2 separate regions of the Homo sapiens genome follow, and region 2 is linked to region 1. The links come from fine-mapping of genetic effects on gene expression. A gene starts in region 1. The other region holds a variant in brackets. All regions are shown on one strand. Distances are between the middles of the regions. Region 1 holds the start of CCDC8 (coiled-coil domain containing 8 subunit of 3M complex). Region 2 holds the start of PNMA8A (PNMA family member 8A).

Region 1 (11,597 bases):
TGTGCAAACCAAGGGCCCTGTCCCCTCCAAACCAGCAGAGCCCGGGGCATGAGGATGGCAAGCGAAGTGACAACATAAACACAGGTGTCTCCATCATCAAGGATGGGAGTGGAACGGACAGCAAGGGCCAGGTCACCCCCAGAGCATTCGTCAGTTGTCAAGTCCAAAGCTAAGAAATCAGTTCATAAATGTTTTTTGATTTGCATGTTGGCTCAACTCTTTTTAAGTCCAAGGAGGCAGTCCACATTAAGTGTGCAGGCAAAAAAGAGATGGAAAAAGGAGTCAGTTTCTCCCCTGCCCTCCCTCTCTCCCTTTATCAAGCTGAGCACCTTGAGTTGCATTTGAGGAAATGAAAACTATAGGTGACGCAACCCCATTGTGTCGAATTCTTTCTTTACATTTTTTGGGTTGCTACAAGGAATCAGTATTTTTTTTTTTTAATCAGATGGTGTGTGTGGTGGCTCACATCTGTAATCCCAGCATTTTGGGAGGCCGAGGCAGGAGGATCACTTGAGGCCAGAAGTTTGAGGCTGCAGTGAGTTATGATCATGCCACTGCACTCCAGCCTGGGCAACAGAGTGAGACCCTGTCTCTAAAAAATTTAAAAAAAAATCAAAGCATGAACAAAACTTTAACAAGAGAATAAAGAGGGTTGTTAGGTGGAGACGTGGCCAGCACTCCACCTCCACTTTGAAGTTCAGAGGCAGAGCATCTCTCCCTCCCACACTTGGAGGGAGGGCCCGTGGGCTGTCTCTAGCCCTCACCTCACAGCTGGTCTTCTTGCTCTCCCTGCTCAGCTTCTGCTCTGGCCTCGGCCCTCAGCACCCTGAGGTTCCTGGCCTCTCCTGCCCTGGGGACTCTCTTGGGCAGGGTTGGCAACCGGGGAGTGTGCCAGAAGGCTCTCCGGCGCTTGCAAAACCACGAAAAGCGTCCAGGGGTCTGGAACCTCACTGTCTTGACCTGTTTCCGGGCCCTGGCTCCTGGAGCTGTTCCTGTGGTCCCTTGGGCAGCTGAGACTTCAGCTTCCTGGATACCTGGGGCCCCTGCCCTCTGATTATGTGCAGCCTCTGCCCTCTGGCCAGCCCGGGCCTGTGCCCTCTGATTATCTGCACCCTGGACAGCTGGGGCCCTTTCCCTCTGGTCATGTACGGCCTCTTCCCTTTGATTATCTGTAACCTCTGACCCCTGGTCAGCTGGGGCCTCCGCCCTCTGATTATCTGCAGCCTCTTCCCTGTGGTTATCTGTGCCCTGTGACCTCTGGTCAGCTGGGGCCTCTGCCCTCTGATTATCTGCAGCCTCTTCCCTCTGGTTATCTGCAGCCTCTGCCCCCTCCTCAGCTGGGGCCCCTGCCCTCTGATTATCTGCAGCCTCTTCCCTCTGATTATCTGCAGCCTCTGCCCCCTGGTCAGCTGGGGCCCCTGCCCTCTGATTACCTGCAGCCCCTTCCCGCTGGTCAGCTATGGCCTCTTCCCTTTGACTATCTGCAGCCTCTCCCCCCTGATCAGCCTCGATGTCTGCCCCCTGACCTGTGGGTGCTGTCTGCTCCTTCCTGCGGCGCCGAAAGGAGGCCCAGTTGATCTTGGGCCTCCATCGCCTAGGGGAAGCCTGGGGCACACAAACATCTCCCGCGTTTCCCAAGCGATCCCCCGGGCTGGTGCCCTCTGGCGCCGATGATACCCCTGCGCTCTCCACTGCGGTGGAGGCCAGCCGGGCCTCGCCCACCCCGGGGCCCGCCCTCGGCGCCCAACCCTTCACCCTCCGCTTCAGCTTCCCCCAGGACACCTGGCTGACATACTCCCGCCACCTGTCCGCTTTGGACAGCTGAGGCCCCAGGTTGTCCTCAAACATGGGCACTGGCAGGTTGACGCGGCGGCGGGCAGGCGGCGCGCTGGGCTGCTTCTCCTGTCGCCGGAGGAAGGCCTCGACCAGTTCCTCATCATCCTCACTCTCCAGGTCGCTTCCCAGGAACTTGCTGCCCAGGTAGCTGACGGGCATTTTGCGCACCTTCTTGCCCCGCCGCGGGCCCTGGCGGCTCTTGTCTCTGGAGGTCTCGAAGTCGCTGAACTCGCTGTCGCTGGCGTTGCTGCTGTCGTACGTGCCCACGACCAGCCGGGGCGGAGGAGTCACCATCTGCTGCACTCTCCTCCTCACTCGGGGCTCCTTGGGCTTTTTGGGGGGCTGGGGCGGGTGCGGGGTGCTCTTCTCCATGATGCGGGCCACGTCCTCCAGGGTGCGGCCCTCTTCTTCCAGGAACTGGGTCAGCCGCTCCCGAAATTCTGCTTCCTTGGTGGCGGGCTTAGAGATGACTCTCCAGACGCCCCCAGCCAGCCTGACCTCCCGGGGGATGAGCAAATAGTCGACGTCCTCCCCGATCTGCAGCATCCCCACCGTGGAGTCCTCCTCCTTGCGGAACACCTTGCCGATCTTCTTAAATGTCCCCACGGGCTTTAGGGCTTCCACGAGGACGTCCAAATCCACATCTTTGCAGACATCGGGGACGCTCCAAAGAATGAGGCAGTCGGGGGACGGCAGGAAGCCCCAGGGGAACCAGCCCCCCACGTGGCTTTTCTCGAGAGTCTTTAAGATCTCCAGGGTGATATCTGGGGTGAGGGGGCAATGAGCCCCAACAAACTACTGTAGCCCTTAGTCTTGAGGGAGGGACTGGATGGGGGGAGTTCCAGCAACGCTGACCGGAGAGTCTCACCTCCCTAGCCAGGGACGAGCCAAACGCCTCCAATCTCTTCGCCTGCAACAAGTACAGTCTTGACCAAGTCCGGCTCCCCCACCAAGGACTTGGGGGAATCAATTTCCAGGATGCCTACGTGAGCCGGGGGCGAGGTCAGTCCCAAGGCTCAAGGCCCACTCCAAGCTGGAAACGTGGTGTCCCAGCTCCAAGTTGGGGCGCGCGGGCTGCCAGCGACTCTTCCTGCCCCAGGCCCCAGGGACGCGGCTGGAACTTGGGACAGGACTTCGCAGACAAAGACGGTCCAGTCGAAGCTATTCAATATGGCCGAGGCGCTGGGAGGCCCCAGCCCGGGCCTCCAGTAGGGTCCCCCGCCCCCAGGCAGGCCGCCACCCAGCTCCAGGCTGACCTTGACGCGCCGCAGCCTGCCAGCCCGCGCGCTTAGAGCTCTGCACCGTGGAGCGCGCGGGCAGGAAGTTCCTCCTCGCCCTCCGCCAGAATGAGGCCCACCTTCCCCCGTCTCATCTTACACTCCCAGACTCTGGAAGACTGACAGGGGGGCTGTCCACTCCCTTCGGGGCGGCCTCCTTCCCCTCCCCCACAGGGGTGTGGCCGCGCCCCGGGCCTAGCTGGGCCCATTGCTTCCCAGCGAAGCGGCAGTGGCCCACGTCAGCACCTTTCCTGAAAGGCAGCGGTTCCCAAACCTGCCATCCGAAATGTGCAAGTTTCCAGCCAAGTCCGGGAGGTGGGTGTGCTAGTGGATTCTACTTTTTGAGAGCCACTGGCACCACAGATTAGCATTTTAAATTCACGCGACTATCGGTACCCGTACACCTATATGCGTGGGTAGAGAAATGGGTACCTGACTGCAACAGTCCCACTGTGGCGCTTGGCAGGTCAGGGCTCAATACATATTTTTGAGGGGATGAATAAACCCAAATGTTCATGGCCAGGCGCGGTGGCTCATGCCTGTAATGCCAGCACTTTGGGAGGCCCAGGTGGGTGGAACACTTGAGGCCAGGAGTTCGAGACCAGCCTGCCCAACATGGTGAAACCCTCGTCTCTACCCCGGGTGTGGTGGTGCGCGTGCGTAGTCCCAAGCTACGCGAGAGGCTGAGGCAGGAGAATGGCGTGAACCTGGGAGGTGGAGGTTGCAGAGATCGCGCCACTGCACTCCGGCCTGCGCAACAGAGGGAGACTGTCTCAAAAAAACAAAAGTGCAAAAAAACCCCTACAAATAAACAACAACAAAAAACCCTAAAAGTTCACGAGTAGAGACTGCCTCTATTTTATGGTAGTATCTTACAGTGAAATATTTTGCAACTTCGAAAAAAGAATGAGATGGCTAAGGATAGGCACGGTTTATGAGGCGCTTCCTATGTAGTAGGCACCATTCCCAGTGCTTTCTATGAATGAACTCAGGAAATCCTTGCTATAACAGGAGACTGGTAGCATGAGTACAATTCCCATTAGACAGCTGAGGAAACTGAGGCCCAAGGACATAAAACCACACTCTCAAGGTCACAGCCATGGGGAGTGGTTGAGTTTGGATTTGAATCCAGAATAGTCTGCCTTTTGTGTCGACCAAAGAGTCAAGATGGCCAGGCGCGGTGGCTCACGCCTGTAATCCCAGCCCTTTGGGAGGCTGAGGCGGGCAGATCACGAGGTCAGGAGATCAAGACAAGACCATCCTGGCTAACGCGGTGAAACCCTGTCTCTACTAAAAATGCAAAAAAATTAGCCGCGCGTGGTGGTACGTGCCTGTAGTCCCAGCTACTCGGGAGGCTGAGGCAGAAGAATCTCTTGAACCCGGGAGGCGGAGGTTGCAGTGAGCCGCGATCGCACCACTGCACTCCAGCCTGGACGACAGAGCAAGACTCCGTCTCAAAAAAAAAAAAAGAAAGAAAGAAAGAAAAAAAAGAATCAAGATGTGAACCAATGCTAGTCGCATTCGGCCGGGAGCTCGGTTCTTGAGACGCGAGTCTACCGAAGCTCCCGCCAGTTGAGAGGCGAGTCTGCCGAAGCTCCCGGCCGAAAAAGCCAAATCCTTCCTTAACCCAGTGTCTGAGGGGTTTTGTCCGTGGCTCCTCCTGCTACAGGACATGCGACTAGCATTGGTCCACATCTTTGGAACCAGGCATCCAGAGACATGTTGAATAGGCCTCGTTGTTAGGAACCCTCAGAGGTACATGGTAAGGCCAGTGCCATCAATCATCTTTTTACAGACGGTGAAACTGAGGCTGGTCTGAAGTTGCACAGCTCTGAGTGGTGGATCTAATATAATATTAGAACCAGATCTTGGGCACTAGCATTTAAAACACTAGCTGACGCTAAAGACACAGCTAATCCCCTTCTCCTAAATGTGTTGCACCATTTAACCACTTAGCAGCCACAATACTTGCAGCCACTCTTGCCTGGATGTGTACAAAGCCCCCTCACTGGGCTTCCCGCCTCCCCATCACTGCTTGCAATCCAGGCCCCATCCAGAAGCTGGGGGCATCTTTTAAAAACTTAGGTCCGATCTGTCTCTACTCTTTTGAAAATTCTCCATCTCAGGCTGGGCGCCGTGGCTCACGCCTTTAATCCAGCACTTTGGGAGGCTGAGGCGGGCGGATCACCTGAGGTCCGGAGTTTGAGACCAGCCTGGTCAACATGGCAAAACCCCATCTCTACTAAAAAATACAAAAATTGCCGGGCGCGGTGGCTCACGCTTGTAATCCCAGCATTTTGGGAGGCTGAAGCGGGTGGATCACCTGAGGTCAGAAGTTTGAGACCAGCCTGGCCAACATGGTGAAACCCCGCCTCTACTAAAACTACAAAACTAGCCTGTCTTGGTGGCGCATGCCTGTAATCCCAGCTACTCCGGAGGCTCAGGCAGGAGAATCGTTTGAATCCGGGATTCAGAGGTTGCAGTGAGCTGAGACCGTGCCATTGCACTCCAGCCTGGGCAACAAGAGCGAAACTCCGTCTCAAAAACAAACAAACAAAAAAAAGAAACGAACAAAAATATAAGAATTAGCCGGGCATGGTGACACATGCCTGTAATCCCAGCTACTGGGGAGGCTGAGGCAGAAGAATCGCTTGAACTGGGAGGCGGAGGTTGCAGTGAGCCAAGATCGCGCCACTGCCCTCCACCTTGGGCGACAGAGCGAGACTCCGTCTCAAATAAATAAATAAATGTGATCTTATTTAACTCATAAAGGAACCAGGCAAATTTTTAAAGAGGGAACGGAGGAAAAAGAGACGGGCCAGAGGGAAAGAAAAGATGTGGGGGCTTAGGGGACGTTAAGGTCTCAGCGAGCGGCCTGTTCACAATTACCGGCTTATTCAGGTTGTTTTTCTCTTGCAGAGCCAGGTCGTTGGGCTTCGCTGGATTTTTCTCCTCTTTCTCCCTGGCTCAGTCCCAGCCGCCGCGCTCAGCCCCCGGGCCTCCCGCGGCCCCGCCCCTCGCCTCCCCCTTCGCACAGTTTGTGGCCTCCGCAGTCCGGCGGTCTCCATGGCAACCACGGGACGCGCTCCTCCGCGCGGATCAAAACTAAGCGGGTGGGGCGGAGGCGGAGGCGAGGCTGCAGGGAGATGGTGGGGGTGGGGGCGCCACGGAGGACGAGGGCAGGAGCTCCTCTTTTCTGCCCCTGGTGCCTCCCTTAGGCCTCATCCCCAAAGCCAGCTTCCCTGAAAAGCTGTTTGTAGAAACCAAAAAATGAAAAATCCTAAGGACACCTAGGTTTCAGGAATGCTGATTAAAGAATCGCAAGTCTGAGGGCTCATGACAGTGCCTTCCAAGTGGTGACCTCGCAGATGAGACGTTTGGGTTTTGTAGTCATAAAAGGGCTTTCGTTTTGTTTGTTTGTTTTGTTTTTTGTTTGTTTTTCTTTTTTTATTTGGTGGGGGAGCAGGGAGCGGCGCAAGGAGGATAATCTAAGAAATGAAAATCCCAAATGTTCCATATTTTTGCAAAAATCGTCAACCTCCGGCCGGGGGCGGTGACTCATGCCTGTAATCCCAGCACTTTGGGAAGCCAAGGCAGGAGGATCGCTTGAGCCCAGGAATTGGAGACCAGCCTGGGCAACATAGCGAGACTCCGGTCTCCACAAAAAATTTAAAAATTAGCCGAATATTATGGTGTGCGCCTGTGGTCTGAGCTACTCGGGAGACTGAGGTGGGCCTATCGCTTGAGCCCGGGAGGTCAGGGCTGCAGGAAGCGGAGATCGCCCATCTGCACGCCAGCCTGGGCAACAGAGCGAGACTCCATCTCAAAAAAAAAAAAAATTGCCAGCCCCTGAACGGTTCAGCTGTGGGTGTTTTTAATTGCACAGATCTCTGGCAGGTGAGACCCTTCTCCAGCCATCACAGAATAAAATAATAAAAACGAGAACTGTAGCCTCACTTTTGCATTTGTTTAAAATAAATGGAAAGTTGGAAAAGAATGGGGAAGAGAAACAAAACACGGCTGAAATCCCTCTACCCAGCTACATTTTGTTGCCATTTAAAAAAAAAATGGGACACGCGGGCCAGGGGCAGTGGCTCAAGCTTGTAATCCAAGCAATTTGGGAGGCCTACGCGGGCGATCGCCTGAAGTCAGGAGTTCGAGACCAGCCTGGCCAATATGATGAAACCCCACCGTCTCTACTAAAAGTACAAAAATTAGCTGGGCACGATGGCAGGCGCCCGTAATCTCAGCTACTAGGGAGGCTGAGGCAGGAGAATCGCTTGAACCTGGGAGGCACAGGTTGCAGTGAGCTGAGGTGGTGCCACTGTACTCCAGCTTGGGCAACAGAGTAACACCCTGTCTCAAAAAAGGATACACGGTCAGAAAAAGCAAAAGTTACAGAAAGGTAAATTTTTTTCAAAAAAGGATTCTTCTCCCCAAACCCCACCTTCCAGCCTCTCCCCAAAAAGTAACCAGTTAAATATCTCTGTATTTTTCCAGAGAAAAAATGCTTGCATTAGTGTATGTGTTAATTTTATTTTATTTTATTAATTTATTTTTTTTTTTTTGAGACGGAGTTTTGCTCTTATTGCCCAGGCTAGAGTGCAATGGCGCGATCTCCGACTCACCACAACCTCCACCTCCCGCGTTCAAGCAATTCTCCCGCCTCAGCCTCCAGAGCAGCTGGGATTACAGGCCAACCCACCCAGCTAATTTTGTATTTTTAGTAGAGACGGGATGTCTCCATGTTGATCAGGGTGGTCTCGATCTCGAACCTCAGGTGATCCACCCACCTTGGCCTCCCAAAGTGCTGGGATTACAGGCGTGAGCCACTTCACCTGGCTTTTTTTTTTATGTTAATTTTAGAATTTATCTCACAGAGATTTTTTTCCCCCATCATCCTAAATTATTTTCATCACAGCACTTACCACTTTCTGTTTTTGTTTTTTTTTTTCTTTGAGACAGGGTCTCACTCTGTCACCCAGGCTGAAGTGCAGTGGCATGATCATGGCTCACTGTAACCTCGAAATCCTGGGCTCAAGCAATCCTCCCACCTCAGCCTTCTGAGTGTCTGGGGCTACAGGTGTGTGCCACCATGCCTGGCTATTTTTAAAAATTTTTTGTAGAGAGGTATTCTCATTATGTTGCCCAGACCGGTCTTGAACTCCTGGCCTCAACTGATGCTCCTGCCTCTGGGTCTCAAAGTGCTGGGATTACAGGCGAGAGGCACCACGCTGGGCCTATTTGTATGTACTTATTTATTGTTTCACCCTATTAGAATACTATCCCCATGAGGTCTGGGATATGAGTCTGGTTTGTTCACTGCTGAAGTCTCAGCATCTAGAACACTTCAGGTAGGAGCTACAAATATTTATTAACTGAATGAATGCTGAGAATTGCACTAGATTTATTACTATAAAATGTGTTTTCACTTAATGTCCTTCTGTATCAGTGCTTGCCAGTCTGTTTTTGTTTGTCACGACAGCTTCCATCTTTATTCCTTCAAGCCAGGAACGTGATACTGATAATAATTCATTTTTACTGAGCACCTACTTTATCCTTGGCCCTGTGCATTTTCTCATTCAGTCCTTAGAACCCTTCCTTAAGCAAATGTTATTCCCATTTTTCAGATTAAAAAAAAAAACTGAGTCCAAGGAAAGTCACACAGCTAGGTAGTGGCAGAGCCAAGCTTTGAATCACTCAGGTTTATTAGATTCCAATCTCCACACACTTTTTGTTTGTTTGTTTGTTGTTTGTTTGTTTGTTTTGAGACAGGGTCTTGCTCTGTCGCCCAGTGATACGATTTCTGCTCACTTCAGCCTCGACCTCCTGGGCTCAAGCTATCCTCCCATCTCAGCTTCCCAAGTAGCTGGGACTACAGGCCCATGTCACCATGCCCAGCTAATTTTTTGTAAAGTTGGAGTTTCGCCATATTTTCCAGGCTAATCTCGAACTCCTGGGCTCAAGTGATCCTCCTACCTCAGCCTTCCAAAGTGCTGGCATTACAGATGGAAGCCACCATGCCTGGCCCCAATCTCCACACTCAGTGGGGTGGATCGCTTGAGCCCAGGAGTTCAAGACCAGCCTGGGCAACATAGCAAAACCCCATCTCTACAAAAATAGTACAAAAAATTAGCTGGACGTGGTGGTGCAAGCCTGTAGTCCCATCTACTCGGGAGGCTGAGGTGGGAGGAGCATCTGAGCATAGGATGTCCAGGCTGCAGTGAGCCATTATCGCACCACTACACCCCAGCCTGGGTGACAGAGTGAGACGCTGTCTCAAAAAAGTTTAGAAAAAAGAGGCCAAGGGCTGGGCACAGTGGCTCGCGCCTGTAATCCCAGCACTTTGAGAGGCCGAGGCGGGCAGATCACAAGGTCAGGAGATCGAGACCATCCTGGCTAACACAGTGAAACCCCATCTCTACCAAAAATACAAAAAATTAGCCGGCCGCGGTGACAGGTGCCTGTAGTCCCAGCTACTCGGGAGGCTGAGGCAGGAGAATGGCGTGAACCCGGGAGGCGGAGGTTGCAGTGAGCCGAGATCGCACCAAGGCACTCCAGCCTGGGAGACAGAGTGAGACTCTGTTTCAAAAAAAAAAAGAAAAGAAAAGAAAGAAAGAAAAAGAAAAAGGAGGCCAAGGAAGATAACACAGAGGCAAAGGCGTACAGAGTGGAGGAGGCGATGTGGATGTAACCCTGTAGGCAGAGGCTGGAGAGATGCAGTCAGCAGCCAAGGAACTCCTGGAGCCACCGGAAGCTTGAAGAGGCAAGCAAGTTCCTCCGCCTGGAGCCTCTGGAAGGAGCTCAGCCTTGCCAACAGCTTGATTTTGGATTTCTGTCCTCCAGAACCATGAGAGAATACATTTGTGATGTTTTAAGCCATCTAGTATATGGTAATGTGTCACAACAGCCACAGGAAACGAATACAGAGCCCGTTGTGTGGCCACGAATTCCCCTGAGTCCAGTGAGGGCAATTCCAAATTAAAACATGCTAATTTTATTCTGTGACCTTGTCTCTCAGGAATAATTATCCCTGAAGCGAAAGAATTCTTGTACAGTGTCCTGCGCCCTAGGAATTACATATGGGTGACGGGCACCTTGGAAGTGGTGGGGTTTTTGGTTTTTTTTTTTTTTAGACTGAGTCTCGCTGTGTTGCCCAGGCTAGAGTGCAGTGGCCCCATCTTGGCTCACTACAACTTCCACCTCCCGGGTTCAAGCAATTCTGCCTCAGCCTCTGGAGTACGTGGGATTATAGGCATGCGCTACCATGCCCAGTTAATTTTTGTATTTTTAGTAGAGACGGGCTTTCACCATGTTGGCCAGGCTGGTCTCAAACTCCTGACCTCAAGTGATCCACCCACTGTGGCCTCCCAAAGTGCTGGGAATACAGGCGTGAGCCACTGTGCCCAACCACTGCTCTGATTTCTGTCCCTATAGTGTTTTTTTAGTTTTATGTAAAAGGAAGTATATAGTGTGTGTCCTTTTTGGTCTGACTTCTTTGACTCCGCATAACGCTTCTGAGGTTCACCGATGTTGCTGTACGCATCTGAGGTTCATTCCTTTTTTTTTTTTTTTTTTTTGAGACGGAGTCTTACTCTGTCACCAAACTGTGACAGGAGGAGTGCTGTGGCACAATCTTGGCTCACCACAACCTCCGCCTCCCCGGTTCAAGCAATTCTTCTGCCTCAGCCTCCCGAGTAGCTGGGACTACAGGCACCCGCCACCACGCCCAGCTAGTTTTTGTCTTTTTAGTAGAGACAGGGTTTCACCATGTTGGCCAGGATGGTCTCGATCTCTTGACCTCATGATCTGCCCGCCTCAGCCTCCCAAGGTGCTGGGAGGGCGACCGCGCCCGGCCAGTACATTCTTTTTTGTTGCTAGGTCATATTCTGTTGCATGAATACATTGCAGTTTGTTTATTCATTCACCTGTCGTCGGCCATCGAGTTGTTTCTAGTTTTTGGTTCTTAGAAATAAAGCTGCTGCCGGGCGCCGTGGCTCACGCCTGTAATCCCAGCACTTTGGGAGGCCGAGACAGGCGGATCACGAGGTCAGGAGATCGAGACCATCCTGACTAACACAGTGAAACCCCGTCTCTACTAAAAATACAAAAAAAATTAGCTGGGCGTGGTGGCGGGCGCCTGTAGTCCCAGCTACTAGGGAGACTGAGGCAGGAGAATGGCGTGAACCCTGGAGGCGGAGCTTGCAGTGAGCTGAGATCGCGCCACTGCACTCCAGCCTGGGTAACAGAGTGAGACTCCGTCTCAAAAAATAAAAAAGAAAAAAAAAAAAAGAAAGCCTGAAGGGCGACTGAAAGTCAGAGGGAACAGCAGGTGAAGAGCTGTGTGCTCTGTGCCCACCTAGGCACATATGCCCACCCCTTCCCTGTTCCCCCCAACTTCCTGCCCCATCAGCCAGGGGTCCCACAGCACCAGAGGGCACATGCAGCTGGGATATACGTATATATATGTTTTTTTCCTTTTTG
Region 2 (11,597 bases), 55 kb after region 1:
ATGGTACCTTGAACAGATTCCAAGTGACTGATGTAGTGGCCACCCTGGTTCAGGAGTTCCTGGGGAGGGGCAGGGGAGGGCCAGAAGAAAACTATATTTTTAGCTAAAAGACCTCAGCTTCTGGCTTGGCATGGTGGCTTACACCTGTAATCCCAACGCTTTGGGAGGCCGAGGTGGGCAGATCACTTGAGCCCAGGAGGTAGAGGCTGCAGTGGGCTGAGACTGTGCCACTGCACTCCCACCTGGGTGACAGAGCGAAACTCCATCTCAAAAAAAAAAAAAAAAAAAGACCTTGGCTTCTGTGTGAGGGAATAGGAAGGGAGGGAAAGGTTTTCATTTTCCAGCTGTTTATAAAAAAATAAACTGGTACTTTGAGGTAATTTGCGTCACCAGATACCTATTCTAGAAACCCCAAGATCTGTGGGACATCCTTCCACATCAGTGGAAAGCCATTCGCAAAGAGGACAAACGGCTTCTTCTCTCATGGATCATTAACAATTCTCAAAGCTTGAACCCGTATCTGATAACCAGTCACATCTGGCTGGGGGCACTGTTTGAGGAAAGGGGAACCCTTTCCTCAAATTTAATAGTCCATGCAATCCTCACCTACAAGAGACTTAACAGGACACTTAATTTGCTAAACTTTATTTTATACATACACGTTTACATTTACTAGTCATGGTGTCAACTTGTTAACACAACGAAGCCCTAATGGACCCGTTTTGAAATTAGAAGCTGGACAGTTACAGGCTTTGGTCTCTTCAAGAATCCAATTCACCCCTGGGTTTCGCTTGGCACACACCCCAGGAGAACGTCGATGCACACAGCTGTGTAGCTGCAAACGGAAACCACTCTCTTTTCTCTCGTATTTTTCAGTCAGACTCACTCAGGATTTTGAAATGAATCATCACGAGAAATTTGTTTTAAAGTTGAATCACTGAGAACATCTAACAACTGTTCACATTCTTTATCACAAAAACTGAAGTCGGAAAAGACGCCCTGAAAACTTGCAAGGGCTAATACTCTATGATAGAATATTACTACTGTTCACCATGTTAATACATTTACTTACTACCATACACCTGAACAGTCACGGCAGAACAAGAGCATGTGAATGACGAAAGGAAACTTGCTTTCAGGGTGTCAGATTATAGAACATGCACAGGAATTTCTTCCACTTCTAACCTCGCTCATCAGTCACATTTACAAGAAACTCAATTTTAAGCAAAGAGATGCCTGAAATAACTAAGACGTGTACAAAAACAAGTTAACCTATGAACACAAGGTAATATTCTGATAGTCTTCGATGTGACTTCCAACATATCTGAGTAGTCACTTTTCAGTTTTTTAAACACGTGAGAAAAATAGATTTGGATTACATCTTTGTGGACGGCTACGATACAGTTTGGAAACCATTATCTCAGGGACCCTGCTCTCTCCTCTACACATGCGCACGCAAACACACACACACACACACACAATGACACATGGTGGTCTGGTCTAATATAGTGTGTCTGAATTCAGAGGGCAGACATTAACAGCCAAGTTTTGTTTTTTTGAGAGAGAGTCTCACTCTGCTGCCCAGGCTGGAGTGCCGTGGCACAATCTCGGCTCATTGCAACCTCTGCCTCCTGGATTCAAGCAATTCATCTGCCTCAGCCTCCTGAGTAGCTGGGATTACAGGCGCGCGCCACCACGCCCAGCTAATTTTTGTAGAGATGGGGTTTCACCATGTTGGTCAAGCTGGTCTTAAACGCCTGACCTCGTGATCGACCTGCCTCAGCCTCCCAAAGTGCTGGGATTACAGGCGTGAGCCACCGTGCCCGGCCAACAGCCAAGTTTTAAAAGATTTTTTTCCCCTCTTACTATAATGTGAGTAGTGACCTTCTGCTGCAAAGATGGTGACAGTTTGGTGCAAAGATGGTGACAGTTGGGTAGATGGATGGAATTAGAGCTGGGGACCTAGGAATGCCTGCGTCCTTCCCTATAATCACCCCCCTTCCCCACAGGATTCCTGAGAGGGCTCATCCCAAATGGGAATCAAAGTGCCATTTTTACTAACAGACTCTAAAACTCAAAGACTTTGAGGTCTAGGCAGACATTCTTTTTCCCTAAAACTAACTCTTGGGACCTCCTGGCTAGATAACTGGAGGATGGAAGCTGGAGACTGAAGGAGCAATAAAACCAGGTTTGCAGCGAAGGTCCTGGCTTAACTTACCCCGCTGGTTACACGAGAGGAAGGCGGGAGGAAGAATATGGCAGGGCCACCCAGCTCTTCCAAATGCCAGGGCCTGCAGAGGTCGCTGACCATTCCGAGGAGGGAGCAAGGCGTGGGGGAGAAAAGCTGAACATGGATGAGTGTAACAGTGACCCTGCTCATGCATAAAGGGGAATGAATGTTCTAGAATTTTCCCAATCCTCTTACCAACTCTCCTGCCTCCGAAGAGAAGGTGAGTAGAGAAGGCGGTGAAACGGCAGGCCTGGTAGAGAAAAGGGCATAGAGATCCACCTCCCTTCCCCAACTCCCTCCCACCCAAGACCTCACCTATCGTTTACCTCAGGGCCAGATCTCTATCAACAGGGGCCCTAAGAGAGTCCAAAGTCTTATTCAGTGACAAGAGAGAACTTGGTTGACTTGGTACTTCTTCCTTGTTCTTTCAACTCCTCAGTATGGGTGGTCCCCCAGATCAAACCTTTCTGGATTCTGCAAATAAATGAGAGAACAGATCAAGAAGGGAAGCAGAGAGGTGTCATTAGGAAATGCATTACTTCCAAGAAATTTCTGGGTCCCTGAACATTTCTATTCCCCAGCCAGGTCTCTAGAAAACTTCACCCTTAAAGCCACATACCCTGCAAACACCATAACTCCAAAGTATTAATATTTTTTTTGGGGGGAGGGGGGAACAGGGTTTCACTCTATCGCCCAGGCTGGAGTGCAGCAGTGTGATCTTGGCTCCCTGCAACCTCCACCTCCCAGGTTCAGGGAGGGTAAGAGCCCAGACCGCCCTTCCAGGAGCCCCTGAAGGCCGATGCTGGAGACATCTGGTGGGCAGATGTCTGGAGGCCAATCCCAGGCCTTGGCCTCCCCAGTAGCTGGGATTACAGGCACAAACCACCATGCCCAGCTAATTTTTGTATTTTTAGTAGAGATGGGGTTTCACCATGTTGGCCAGGCTGGTCTCGAACTCCTGACCTCAGGTGATCTGTCTGCCTTGGCCTCCCAAATCATTAAATTCTTTTTTTTTTTTTTGGAGACAAGAGTCTCACTCTCGTCACCCAGGCTGGAGGGCAGTGGCACAATCTAGGCTCACTGCAACCTCCACCTCCCGGGTTCAAGAGATTCTCCTGCCTCAGCCTCCCGAGTAGCTGGGATTACAGGTATGTGGCACCACACCCGGCTAATTTTTTGTATTTTTAGTAGAGACGGGGTTTCACCATGTTGGCCAGGCTGGTCTTGAACTCCTGACCTCAGGCGATCTGCCCACCTTGGCTTCCCAAAGTGCTGGGATTACAGGCATGAGCCACCAAGCCTGGGCCCAAACCATTAAATTCTCATCAAGGAAGATGGGTCAGATGGAGTGGCAAATGACCACAGTGACACTCATTGTGGGTTTCCTCTGCCACCTCCTGCCCACCAGATGTCTCCAGCATCGGCCTTCAGGGGCTCCTGGAAGGGCGGTCTGGGCTCTTACCCTCCTCAACTGGTGTGTCATCCACCTCCTGCCATGCACCAGGGTCCTCCTCATCACCCGCTTGACCCACCACCTCCTCGGGCTCCTCTGCCCCACCTGCCACTCCTGCTCCTCCTGCCTCATCCACTTGCTGGCACGAGCCCAGTCACTTCTGCTATCATTCTCACCATTGGTGGCACGCCGAGGAGAGCCTTCTGGCTTGGCCTTCGGACCCCTAGAGGTTGAGGCTGTTGCCTCGGCAGGCTGCTGGCCCCGAGGGGCCTTCTGATCTGATGCCTCCCTTCTTGAGCCTGGCCCTTTCTTTGGCATCACCGGCTTCTTCCTGCCATCTTCTGAGTCAACCAAGACGTAGGAGACAGGGCCCAAGCTCACCTTCTTCTTCTTCCTCATGGGAGCGGGGTTCTTGGCAGACACCCAGGCCACGGCCTTCTTCTTTGGTGGGCTTTCATGGCCACCATCTTGGTCTGACTCAGAGGCGCCTCCTGGGCTCTCGGCTTCTGCCCGGGCATCCTGAGGTGGCTCTCTGGGACCCTTCCAGGCACATTTCGCCATGGGCTTCTTCAAAGCCAACTCCTCCTTATTCACACAGGGCTTTCTGCTGCCCTTGATCGGCTCTGAGATCGCCATGCTTTCAGCATCACCCACCTCAGGATCCTCCAAGTTAGCTGTGCTGTTGGAATTGATGCCTTTGGGTTTTTTCCAGGGCACTGCTTCCTGCCTGGAGTTCTTCTTCTGCTTCTTTCTCCTGGAGCGAGACTTAGCTCCAGCCCTGCGAACCAAAGGTTTGGTAGGCTCATGCTGGTCTTCCGTGGCATTCCAGTTGTTGGGGGTCTCTGCCTTTAAGGCAGAACCCACCTCTGCTGCAAGCCCCGGTTCTTTCTTCACCTTCCTCCCTGCTGCTAAAGCCCAGGCTGCCATCTCCTCGAATTCAGCGGCCTCCTGGGCCCTGGCTTCCTCCCGGCTGCGGATCTCGGCATCCATGCAGAAGATGATCTGCACCACTGCTCCCAGAAGCACCCCCAGAGCTTCTGCCCAGTTCTCTGGGGGCTGATGCTGGTTCTGGGACAGGGTGGGGTGGTTGAGCTGGAGCAGGCGGACCACATCCTCCCAGGTGCGCCCCTCGGCATCCAGGAATTCATTCAGATTTTTTAAAAACTCGGCATCCTGGGTAGGGTCTCTACAGACCACTCTCCAGACACCACCCCTTCCTGGGAATTCACGGGGGATGGTGCTCAGATTCACACCTTCACCAACCTCAATGAGGGCAGCTTTAACATTCTCTTCCCTCACAAAAATCTTGTTGAGCACGCGGTACGGGCCCAGTGGGGAGAGGACCCCATTCAAGGTCTCCTCAATTTCTGCCTGCCCACAGTCCTCTGGGATGCCTGTGACCAACAAGGACCTGTGGATGTCCACTTCCATTCCCCTGCACCAATCCTCCAGAAGGTTCATCGCCATGGTCTTGGACATTTAGCGGCTCTGAA[C/T]CTACTATGTGTAGTAAATAGTCTATCAGGTGGACGTGGGCTGCAGCGGTCTCCAAACAGTAATCCTGCAAGGTGACAAGGGAGCGAGGTCACGTTCCCAGGAAGATGACCAAGCTCACAGATCCTAGCTGCCCCCTCCGCGGCTGGCCTGCAGGAGGCCTGGCGCTTTCCCAACACCCTCCTCCCCAACCCAGGCCCCGGTGCTCACACGTGTCCCTGAATCTGCAGCAAAAGGCCCTAGGACCCTCCCCCGGGCCTGACGCTCCGCCTGCCCAGCCGGGACTTACTTGGCAGATCAGCCTCCGACCGCCCAGCCAGGCCAAGGAGACGCAGTGGAATGCAGCCGTTTCCCAGTCGCTGGCTCCGGCTACCCCGGCGCCGCTGCTAGAGGCAGAAAGGGCCAAGAAGGCGCCGTCCGCCCCCGCTCCGGCCCAGGCGGGTCACGGGGCGTCCAGACTCGATGCCGTTAGCGGCGAGAAGCCGAGGTTGGCGTCGCAGCGCGCGCCTGCGCACTGGCTCCCGCACCGCCGCTCGGGGGTCTTGGGCTGCGCAGGTGCCGACGTCTCCATGGCAACCGGGCGTGGGTTGCTAGGGCTGAGCCCGGCCGGCGCGCCGGCGCTGCAATTGGACCTAGGGAGCCGGGTGCAAGAGTGGCCTGTTCAGGTCGCAGAGCAAGCGGGTCTGGATACACTCCGGTGGCGCCTCCACGGAGGCCCTCTTTCAACCCAAGTGGGCCTCGCGAACGGGGGTTAGGTCGATGAGAAGCGCCAACACCTATGGCTGCACCCACTGACTGTATTATCCTCTGCCCCACCTGTTGGATTCACCCAACGCAACTCTTGGGAGACACTAGAAATCAAGAAAGGAGGAAAACGAGGCTTTAATCTTCTTGGGTTCCTCCAACAGCAGGTGCAGTTCCTGTTGGGCTTGTAGCCTTCTCTCTTACAAGCTGCTGGGTTCTTCCAGGAATTTCCAGAAACTTCTAGAAATTTCTTAGTCTCCTCCCCGACCCCTTCTAGCATGAGGATAATGCCTCGCCTTTTCTTGTTTCCTCAACGTGATTCAGGGCAGGTTCTTGGCATCCTCCAGGCAGGGGACAATGTTACAGCTCAGTGACTGCCCCTACAGAGAAGTGTTAGTCCAAACTGCAACCATTTTGTAAGCCCTGACTATTTTGCAGATCTTGGTCAAAGTGAAATATTCCACGGGGGTTCGGGCCAATGAGAAACATCCTGCCTAATCACCTGACCACAAGGCGGACAAAGGCCCAGCTAAAGAAACATTATCATACCCTATCGTGCAAAGGCCCAACTGAAGAAACATCCCTATCATATTCTGCTGGGAGAAAGTGCAGAGAACACCACATTCCACCAGAACAAGGGCCAGAACCGCCTCATCATGGAACCATCTTATCAACATCCTGCTGGGCAGCAAACCATACTGCTCAGACCCCTCCCACCCATAACTATAAGTACCCCCAGCCTATAAGCAGCAGTGGGCTCTGGCATTAGGCTGGTTACCCACTTCCACAGGTGTCTGCAGTATACCTGAGTTGCTGTTGAGCCGCCTTCTGTCTGTGTGTCTTTAACCCTCACCTTCCCTCCAAAACCTAACAAGGAGGGCTACCCTCTAGGCAGTGTGCTGAGAATAGCACCTCGGGGCAAGGCTGCAGTCACATTTATACCCACTTTTAATGACGTGCTAATTAAGGGGTGGGTTTTCAGAATTAGCAAATTGGCAGTAACTTATGGGTGTTGCCATGGCAATGGTAAACTGTCATGGTGCTGGCAGGCATGTCTTATGGAGAGAGGCTTTCGGTGCCTTTTCCAGGTTTTGGCCAGTCTTCAATGTGATCCTCAGTGGAGTCCCCTGGGCCTCCTACCTCAACCTTGCTGCCCATGAGCAAGAACTTTGTTAATAGTTTATTAATGCCCAGTGCTGTGGCTCACGCATGTAATCCCAACACTTTGGGAGGCTGAGGAGGGCGGATCACTTGAGCTGGGGAGTTCGAGACCATCCTGGGCAACATGGCAAAACCCCGTCCCTACCAAAAACGCAAAAAATTAGCCAGGTGTGATAGGGGTCACCTGTGGTCTCAGCTATTCGGGAGGCTGAGGTGGGAGGATTGCTTGAACCCAGGAGACCCTGTCTCAAAAAAAATAAACTAATTAATTAAGCACTCCTATGAGACTCGGTTGGACTGGCCATCTGTTTTTTTTTTTTTTTTTTTGCCAGTCCCTCACTGATCCACCTACCAATGTCCCTTCCTGGCTGTGTGATCTTAGAGAAATAATTTGACCCCGCTGAGCTTATTTCTTTTCTCTGTAATAGGAATTCTAATAAAAAATCTTCCTGATTTGGAAGTTTTGAAGATTCGGGGGGATCTCATCTGAAAGATGCATGGAAGTACAATTTGGGCCTTGGTATTCAACCAAAATCTGTTCTTTGGGTTCATTTTTGAAACTGACATTTGCAAGGCCAAATAGCCAAATGTTCATTTCACTGTCATCTCTGGCATTCCTAAATTTGGGCATCATCAATACTTGTGTGATTGCCCAAGTTTCCATCATATTTTGTGCTAAAAAGTTGTGTCATTCAAATCGTTAACCTCTGATTATTCACATAATTCACACCGAATATTCCAATAAACACTCTAGCTATGATTAAAGTCTTTAAATCTCATGTGCTTTATATGTTGAAATTCTACATATCAGTGGAAGAATGAGTGTATATTTTTAGGCAGTGGTTTAAAAACATAGCCATAAATTCTCCGACACTTCTATTGAGAAGTGACGATCTGTGTCCCCTCCTCGTGAATCTGAGCAGACTTGTGACTACTTTAACCAATGGAGTTTAGTGGAAAGGAAGCTATGTGGCTTCTCAGACTATGTTACAGAAGGGCACGCAGCTTCTTCCTCATTCACTGGAACACTTTTTTTTTTTCTTTTTTGAGACAGAGTCTCGCTCTGTCGCCCAGGCTGGAGTGCAGTGGCGCAATCTCGGCTCACTGCAAGCCCCACCTCCCGGGTTCACAGCATTCCAGGTTGGGAAGAACAATGAACAATTTTTCTGAGAGATGGCTAATCACAATCCCCCATGGGCACAATGACCTCTTTCTGCATGTAGCCCCCTCCAGCATACCCCTATGAAACTTCCAGTCCCTGCCTTTTTGCAGACAGCCCCCTTCTCTGCTGTGCTGCCCATTGCAACCGTGCAATGTATTTTCATATCTTCTCTAATAAATCTGCCTTTCTTTACCTACAACTGTCTTGGTAAATACCTTTACTGCCCACAACACCCGCCGCACCTAGTCGTACCCGTGACAGTTGGGGGTGACTCAAATGACTGAGAGCTAGAATCATCTGGGAGTTTCTTCACTCACATGTCTGGTGCCTGGGCTGAAATCCTTTGAAAGCTGGGCTCAGCTGGGAAATGTTGATGGAAGCACTGATGTGGCTTGGGCTTCCTCACAGCATGAAAACCAGAGGGTAGATCGTTGAACTTCTTATTTGGAAGCTCAAGGATGCAAGAACAAGAGTGTTCCTGTGAGGCTGGGCGCGGTGGCTCACGTCTGTAATCCCACCCTTTGGGAGGTTGAGGCGGGTGGATCTGGACGTCAGGAGATCGAGACCATCCTGGCTAACATGGTGAAACCCCGTCTCTACTAAAAATCCAAAAAAATTAGCCGGGCCTGGTGGCAAGCTCCTGTAATCGCAGCTACTCGGGAGGCTGAGGCAGGAGAATGGCCTGGCCAACATGGTGAGCCGAGGCTGCACCATGGCATTCCAGCCTGGGGGACAAGAGCGAGACTTCGTCTCAAAAAAAGAAAGAGAGGCCGGCGCGGGCTCACGCCTGTAATCCCAGCACTTTGGGAGGCCAAGGCGGGCGGATCGTGGGTCAGGAGATCGAGACCACCCTGGCTAACATGGTGAAACCCTGTCTCTACTAAAAATACAACAACAACAACAAAAATTAGCCGGGCGTGGTGGCGGGCGCCTGTAGTCCCAGCTACTCAGGAGGCTGAGGCAGGAGAATGGCGTGAACTCGGGAGGCAGAGCTTGCAGTGAGCCGAGATCACGCCACTGCACTCTAGCCTGGGCGACAGAGCAAGACTCCGTCTCAAAAAAAAAAAAAAAAAAAAAAGTTACTCTAGAGAAGTATTTGGGACCCCCATGGGAATGAGATGCGTCTACCACCGTAACAGGAGGGACCTCTGCATCCAGGACATCTGGGTCCAGGAACGCTAGTAGGAGTGAAGGTAGAAAAATGAAGACGGGCTGGGCACGATGGCTCACGCCTGTAATCCCAGCACTGTGGGAGGCCAAGGCAGGCAGCTCACCTGAGATCAGGGGTTCAAGACCAGCCTGACCAACATGGAGAAACCCTGTGTCTACTACTAATACAAAAATTAGCCGGGCATAGTGGTGCATGCCTGTAATCCCAGGTACTTGGGAGGCTAAGGCAGGAGAATCGCTTGAACCCAGGAGGCGGAGGTTGCGGTGAGCTGAGATTGTGCCATTGCACTCCAGCCTGGGCAACAAGAGTGAAACTCCGTCTCACAAACAAAAAAAAAAAGTAAATTATTTTTTGAAAAATAAATATAGGTTAAAATAGTGAATTTTATGTTATGTGTATTTTACTACAAAAGTGAACAAATAATGCGTTACAGAATGGAGAGATGGGGGGCAAGGGAGGGAGAGAGATGCCTTCAGCTTTGCCTCAAAAGCCAGGTTTCAGCTTTCTGCAGAGCCAATATTCCTAACAGTCCTGGCTGCCCCTTCAGGAATGCCACCCAACCCCAGTGCATGAGCACAGAATCAAAGTTCTGGAACTTTCTCTTCAAAGAGAAAACAAAACATCTCAGTGTGTTTGAAAATTCTGCTAAGGATTTGTCAGACCAAAAAAAAATAATAATAAAAAAATAAAAGAAGAAGAAGAAAATCGTCAATCTAGACAGGATAAAAAGTAAATTTATACCAGCAGTGGATTGTAAAACATCATAACTAAAATGAAATGGAATGGATGTTTGCTGAATCTCAGAGGCTTTTGCTATGTTTGCCAAGTAGTTTTACAAATGCGGGAGCTTGTTTGTGATCCAGGCTGCAGACAAAGTTGCTGCAGTGGAAACTGAGTCACACAGTGACTCAGTTAGAATTAGACACTGTCTGTTTTTTCTTCTCTCTTTTTCAGTTATTTATTTTGGCATGCAAGGGAATGACAGACACTGAGTTTTGATAAATACTGGATTTTTAAATGCAATAATCCTCCAAGTGACTATCTCTGGGGAGAAGAAGAGGGCAAGTCATATGGGAGGTAGGACACAGCCTATTTAAACAATAATTTTGTTTAAAGATGTGTAAATAAATTTAGCATAGTATTAAGATTTAATAAAGAATGGCAAGGGATACATAAGGGTTAATTATATAAATCTCTTTTTTTTTTTTTTTCTGAGACAGAGTCTTACTCTGTCCCCCAGGCTGGAGTGCAGTGGCGCACTCAGCCTCCACCTGCAGGGTTCAAACGATTCTCCTACCTTAGCCTCCTGAGTAGCCGTGATTACAGGCACGTGCCACCATGCTGAGCTAATTTTTGTATTTTTAGTAGAGAAGGGGTTTCCCCATGTTGCCCAGGCTGGTCTCAAACTGCTGACCTCAAGTGATCCGCCTGCCTCGGCCTCCCAAAGTGCTGGGATTACAGACATGAGCTGCTGAGTCCAGCCAATAATGCTAAAAAAAAAAAAAAAAAAAAAAAAAAGGTGTAAATAAATTTAGCATAGTATTAAGATTTGATGAAGAATGGCACGGGATGCATGAGGATTAGTTATATAAATATCAATTCTTTTTTTTTCGAGACTGAGTCTCACTTTGTCACCCAGGCTGGAGTGCAGTGGCGCGACCTCGGCTCACTGCAGCCTCTGCCTCCTGGGTTCAAGCAGTTCTCCTGCCTCAACCTCTCAAGTAGCTGGGATTACAGGGACCCGCCACTATGCCTGGCAAATTTTTGTACTTTGTTTTGTTTTGTTTTGTTTTAAGACGGAGTCTCGCTCTGTCACCCAGGCTGGCTTGCAGTGGCGCGATCTCGGCTCACTGTAAGCTCCACCTCCCGGGTTCACGCCATTCTCCTGCCTCAGCCTCCCAAATAGCTGAGACTACAGGTGCCCGCCACCACGCCCGGCTAATTTTTTGTATTTTTAGTAGAGATGAGGTTTCACCATGTTAGCCAGGATGGTCTCGATCTTCTGACCCCGTGATCCGCCCGCCTCGGCCTCCCAAAGTGCTAGGATTACAGGCATGAGCCACCACACCCAGCTTTTTTTCTTCTTGAGACAGGATCTTGCTCTATCTCCCAGGCTACAGTGCAGTGGCAGGATCACAACTCACTACAGACTCAACCTCCTGGGCACAAGCGAGCCTCCTGCCTC

Evidence for each region. PIP is the estimated chance that this variant, and not a neighbour inherited with it, causes the effect. A credible set is the group of variants that fine-mapping cannot tell apart.
Region 2: its variant is the best candidate, but not a certain one, in a credible set for the expression of CCDC8 in fibroblasts (GTEx, PIP 0.59).

The regions. Positions count from the first base shown.
Region 1 is chr19:46,410,429-46,422,025 of GRCh38, forward strand. CCDC8 (coiled-coil domain containing 8 subunit of 3M complex) reads right to left here and starts at 3,136. Exons shown (of 1, transcript NM_032040.5): 1 at 1-3,136. The coding sequence starts at 2,382. The coding sequence ends at 766. RefSeq lists enhancers at 1,510-2,343, 4,010-4,843, 4,844-5,676 and a silencer at 6,103-6,192.
Region 2 is chr19:46,465,874-46,477,470 of GRCh38, forward strand. PNMA8A (PNMA family member 8A) reads right to left here and starts at 5,690. Exons shown (of 3, transcript NM_018215.4): 1 at 5,464-5,690; 2 at 3,860-5,241; 3 at 630-2,704. The coding sequence starts at 5,162. The coding sequence ends at 2,688. The variant C/T (reference allele first, on the strand shown) is at 5,177.